Linked DNA regions of Homo sapiens: region 2 is linked to region 1. A link means that fine-mapping ties the variant in region 1 to the plasma level of a protein whose gene starts in the linked region. Region 1 holds a variant in brackets. A gene starts in the other region. All regions are shown on their forward strands.

Region 1 (2,905 bases):
TTTTTCCTTGCAGTATTACATCTGGAAACCGTGCCGTGATGATCTCTCTGCACCCCTCACAGGCGGCTAACAACATCACAAACAAATCAGCCAGAACCATCACTCCCGGGTGGGGCCCCAAGTAAGCCAGTTCCCCAGGGCCCAGGGCCCTCCAGGGTGAGGTCCCCAGCAGGTGAGATTCAGTGTGGCAAGGTCTCTGGGAGCAGGTCCCAGCAGGTAAAGTCCCCGACCGCCGACATCCTCAGTAGGTGCAGCCTCCAGCAGCCAAGGTCCCCAGCAGGTGAGGTCCCCAGCAGGTGAGGTCCCCAACAGGCGAGGTCCCCAGCAGGCGAGGTCCCTAGCAGGCAAGTCTTCTGGAGGGGAGAGGCTCCTGGCAGCCGTGAAGCCCAGCGTGTGAGGTCCCAGGTAAGAGAGAGGGTTGGCCACAAAGGACTCCAGCAGGTGAGGCCCCAGGCAGATGAGGTTCCCGGCAGCCCAGGCACCATGCCGGCCTCTCAGGTGAACCAAGCCGCTATGCTGCGCACCGTCTGGTACCTGGATTCCTGCTGCAGTTTCCAGCAGGCCTTGCAGAAATCCAGTGCCCAGCTGAAGGAGCGAGGCCGCAGCGTCTCCCGCCAGCGAAAGTAGCTCAGGTAGCGGGCGTGGTCCTTGTCCAGCTCCTGCAGGTACCGGGCCAGGTCCTTGGGGCTCTGGAAGTCGTCCACGTGGATGAAGGCGTCGGGTGGCAGGAACCTCTCGTAGTTGCTTCTGCTGGGGCCCAGCACCACGGGCACGGCCCAGGCCTCCAGGGCGTTCCTCCACAGCTTCTCGGTGATGTAGTCGGGGTGCAAGGAGTTCTCGAAGGCCAGGTAGAACTTGTACCGGGACAGCGTCTCCATCATGGTCCCCTTGGGCAGGGGCTTGTGGGAGCGTCCGTACACGTCCACCTTGAGATGAGCCTGCAGGCTCTGGTAGTAGCGCACCCTGGCTGAGTCCGGCTTCCAGTTGGACACCGCCCAGGCCACCAGCTCGGTCTTGGCCGAGAGGTTGAGCGGTGGGTGGGCAGGCTGGCCGGACCACGGCTCCAGCCAGCCGTAGGGCGTGAAGATGTCGGAGTCGCTGCGGTAGGACATGGTGAGATTGAAGTATCTGTCCAGGGCTTCCAGGTGCTGGCAGTTAGGGGGTGGCTCCAAGTTGAACCAGATCCAGCGCTGCCCCTGCGGCCTCGGGGAAGGTGGGAGGCGTGACTTAGGGTTGGACATGATATCCCAGTGGTGCACGATGACCATGTCTGCCTGTGGGTACACCTTGCGGTCGGCAGTGATGTGGCAGTCGGCTGTGCCGGGCACCATCTCTGAACAGCGGGACAGAGCCACAGGGATGTGGAAAGGCCATGTCCGTAGCAGGATCAGGAGGGTGGGGCGGGTGGGAGTGGTGTCCTGTCGGGAGGACCCACTGGGAGCCCTAGGGGATCCAGTGGCATCGTCTCGGGACACACGCAGGTAGGAGAAGAAACACACAGCCACCAGCAGCTGAAATAGC[A/C]GTGCGGCCAGACAGCGGCGCCATGGCCATTGTGGCTTGGCTGCACCCAGGGGATCCATGGGTCAGAGTATCTGGGAAGAGAGGAGAGAGGAGTGAGGGTCATTGATGACAATCTCCTGCTTACCAAAGCTCCGGGCCATGAGTCCTGAGAGGAGCTGCTATTATTCCTGTTTCACAGATGAGAAAACTGAGACCAAGTGACTCACAGCAAAAATCAGCACAGCTGGTGTTTGAACAAAGGGACCTTGTCCCAGAGTCCACTTCCTTCTACCTATTAGACAAGACCTTTCCTGGAATCCCCGAAGTCTTCCCCAGTCTACTGAAATACAAGTGCCCTGGAGGCAGGGGAGAAGGCATAGCCGGTCATCATTGCTTCCCATGTCACTGAGGCAAGGCTTGAATCCATGACTCAGCCAGAGAAAGGTACAATGGGACTGGGTTTTGCAGGTAATATATGAGCTGACCGGCCGAGCAGAGTGGCTCACACCTGTAGTCCCAGCACTTTGGGAGGCCGAGGTGAGCAGATCACCTGAGGTCAGGAATTTAAGACCAGCCTGGCCAACATGATGAAACCCCATTTCTACTAAAAATACAAAAATTAGCTGGGTGTGGTGGTGCACACCTGTAGTCCCAGCTACTTGGGAGGCTGAGGCACGAGAATCACTTGAACCCAGGAGGCGGAGGTTGCAGTGAGCCAAGATGACACCACTGCATTCCAGCCTGGGTGACAGAGGGAGATTGTGTCTCAAAAATAAATAAATAAATAATAGCCGGGTTTGGTGGCTCATGCCTGTAATCCCAGCACTTTGGGAGGCTGAGGCAGGTGGATCACTTGAGGTCAGGAGTTTGAGACCAGCCTGGCCAACATGGTGAAACCCTGTTTCTACCAAAAATACAAAAATAAGCCGAGTGTGGTGGCTCATGCCTGTAATCCCAGCTGCTCGGGAGGCTGAGGCATGAGAATCACTTGAACCTGGGAGGCAGAGGTTGCAGTAAGCTGAGATCATGCCACTGCACTCCAGCCTGGGTGACAGAGCAAGATTCCATCTCAAAAATAAATAAATAAATAATTTTTTTAAAAAAAGACCAGCCTGGGCAACATGGCAAAATCCCAACTCTACTAAAAATACAAAAATTTGCCGGGCAAGGTGGCATGCGCCTGTAGTCCCAGCTACTTGGGGGAATTGCTTTAGTCTGGAAGTTTGAGGCTGCAGCAAGCTGTGATCATGCCACTTAACCCCAGCCTGGGTGATGGAGCAAGACCTTGTCTTAAAAAAATAAAATAAAAGGCTGGGCTCGGTGGCTCACACCTGTAATCCCAGCACTTTGGGAGGCTGAGGTGGGCAGATCCCAAGGTCAGGAGATCGAGACCATCCTGGCTAAC
Region 2 (2,905 bases), not on the chromosome of region 1:
GCCCCATCCTATTTGACCCATTACAGAAAGACCAAAGCTAGGACATATCATATCATGTCATAACATGATAAAACCCGGGAATAATCAGACCTGTATTTTGCTGTTACCCTGACCAATAAGTCACTATATTTTGTACATAGGAAGCAATGTTATCCCATAGGGTCTTCTAAAAGGAAGTTCCATCTTCAGATTATTCAGAACCAACTAGGTCAAGATCTGCCTAACAACACAGCTTCCTGAACATATTAAGCATAAAACTCAGAGGCAAGAACCTTGAGAAACATGTGCCAAAGTTCAGGGAATGGTCAGACACAGAAAAACAATGCTTGGCTAAGGAGCTGAAGTGTGTTTCAAAGAAAACAAGAAGAGCCTGATGTCTCATTCACCTCTCCTGGACAGCTGCCTTCTTCCGAGATGCCCAGCTTATTTGCCTGGATTCATCACGAGAGAAGTAGTTTTTAGATATATTCCACCATCTAGAGAAAGGAAATATCACTTTTTTGAAGGCGAACCAAGAAGTCTGTTTTGGGGTTGATAAATTTCTGACAGTTGCTCCCAGAGTATTTTCAACTCAAAGTATAATTTCATAAAGAGGCTTATTATGTTTTAAATTGTCTGTCTGTAAAATATACTTTCATGAAATTTTGTTTTCTCGGAATCTTCCTTTTTCCTTCTTGTATGAATCTAATGAACTTGAATTTCCAAAGTCATTGAGGTAGGAAAGGTATGTAACATTATGCTTGAGCTTTAGGTCAATAATTTATACGATAGTGGTGGTTTTGTTTTGTTTCGTTTTGTTGAGACAGAGTCTCGTCCTGTCACCCAGGCTGGAGTGCAATGGCATGATCTTGGCTCACTGCAACCCCTGCCTCCCAGGTTCAAGTGATTCTCCCACCTCAGCCTCCCAGGTAGCTGGGATTACAGGTATGCACCTCCATGCCTGGTTAATTTTTGTGTTTTTAGTAGAGACAGGGTTTCACCATGTTGGCTGGGCTGGTCTCCAACTCCTGACCTCAAGTGATCCACCCACCTTGGCCTCCCAGATTCTGGAGTTTTTTAAATGGGTCACCCTATAGAAGGCATGAAGTCATAGAATCATAATAATCACCAAAACCAACCATTGATTTCAATACTAGAAAATTTGAGACACCAGAAGGTGAAGTGACTTGCCTAGAGCCATACAATGGCAGAGGCAGGGACTGCAACCCACTATGAAAGCTTAGGGCTCTTCTCACCCTTTGGTGGCCAAAAGTATTTTGAAATTTTGACCAAAAAAATTAATGTTTATTGATCACTTTAAATCCAAAAGATGAATCCACTGGATTCCACAGTAAATTGGGTGGAATGTAAGGGAGGGATCAAAGGGCAGTGAATATATGAATGGGGAGGAGAACCATTTAGCTAGGTGCAAAAGTAATTGCGGTTTTTGCAATACTTTTGCACCAACCTAATAATTGTTCATAATTCTAAGAGCTATTCGGATCCCATTAGGAGCTTAAAAGGGACAAATGTGCTCAGGGCATGCAGTTTTTGCCTTCCGGAACTAGATCAGGATCATGCATTTAAGCTAGAAAATGGAAAGAGGAGTTGCTTCACCCACAGTCAGTGCTATTGCATCAACCAATCCCTGCCATTCTGCAGTTTCCTGGTGTATCTGCCCGGAGTCACACAGTCTTTCCTGCTAAGCCTCAGCGTCTCCTCCAAGCCACATCAAAATCTTTCCTTCTGGGCCTTTCCCAGAAGTGAATTCTTGCTGGAAGGTATAAAAGACCAGCTCCTCCAAGCAGAGCAACTCCCTGGCTGCCGTGAAAAGACAAGGCACTGGGCAGGTAAGACTCGTCAACTTTCATCTTTCCTGGTTTCTGCAAAGTTGATGATGAAATTTCCTAACGTCTTCTCAGAAAGCTTAACACTGGATTTAGACTTGTCTCTATCAGGCACTTTCTGGTGCCAGCTTTAGCCACCCCATGGCACACTCCTCTTGTTTGGTATAAGAGAGAATGTAATTAAGCCTCCCCCCACCACTGTGGGGGAAAAAGGCTTTTCTGTGTCTGAAAACTATGTCAGAGAATCATAAACTCTTAGGGCTGGAAGGTACCATAGACCTCTCTTATCCACCTTGTTTAGGAACTGAGACTTAAGCAATTTAATGTGTCCAGAGTCACACAGGAATTTGGGGGAAAACAGTGACAGAATGGTGCTCCCTGTGCTGTTCTTGAGACAGTGTGATGAAATCTGGCCTCTCCACTATAGTGGAGATTTTGCAGTGTTTTAAGGGGTTCCCTAAGCCGGAGCTGTCAGGTCTTCATCTCATTTCCAGCATCTCATGCCTGCCATCTGCAGCAGATCCGACCATCTAGTTTGCCCTCAATGTCTAGTCCTAGCTGTCTTAAGTGCCCTGTGGACACCTGGCTCTCAAGCAGGTGTGTGACCTGTATGCAGCGGTAGTAGGCAGGCTTCATTTTGGGGGAATGGGGTGGTTAAATTATATTTGTTTTTTATGCAATTGTGTGCCTCAAATCTTTCAGTTGAAGTAGATTATTTCCGCTCTAGAGGGCTTGATAAGAGCTATCTCTTCATTCTCATCCTGATCTTGGAGTCACTCAAAAGATCAAGAGAGTGTTCCTGCAGGTGATGGGGCAAGAATTATGGCTTTCCTATTGGCTCACTCCACCACCCTCCACAGGGCTCTTTACAATCATGGAAGAGAATCTCACTGACTTCATCCCTTCTCAGGCCTTCCCCCTATCTCCTTGGTGACTGCTCAGCGACATTGAGAACCAAAGTCTGGAAGGCCTTGGTACTCAGAGTGTGGTCTGCAGACCAGCAACATCATCATCACCTGGAGCTTACTGGAAATGCAGACTTTCAGGCCCCTTCTATGACCTTCTGAGTCAGAATCTGC

Which allele goes with the higher level. Alleles are on the strand shown, and positions count from the first base shown. The strength of an association depends on the size of the effect and on how common the allele is.
As copies of A replace C in region 1, the plasma level of the protein whose gene starts at base 1,674 in region 2 goes down (weak association).

Evidence for each region. PIP is the posterior inclusion probability: the model's chance that the variant is causal. Protein levels are from antibody-based Olink assays in UK Biobank. Linkage for the fine-mapping came from a reference panel and not from the study's own genotypes, which makes the PIPs less certain.
Region 2: it holds the start of LPO, and the variant in region 1 is fine-mapped to the plasma level of the LPO protein (UK Biobank, PIP above 0.99).

The regions. Positions count from the first base shown.
Region 1 is chr19:5,843,260-5,846,164 of GRCh38, forward strand. FUT3 (fucosyltransferase 3 (Lewis blood group)) reads right to left here. Exons shown (of 3, transcript NM_001382750.2): 3 at 1-1,592. The coding sequence starts at 1,580. The coding sequence ends at 495. Among named protein-coding and RNA genes, the nearest start is that of FUT6, 5.0 kb to the left of the region's middle. The variant A/C (reference allele first, on the strand shown) is at 1,522.
Region 2 is chr17:58,236,911-58,239,815 of GRCh38, forward strand. LPO (lactoperoxidase) reads left to right here and starts at 1,674. Exons shown (of 13, transcript NM_006151.3): 1 at 1,674-1,829.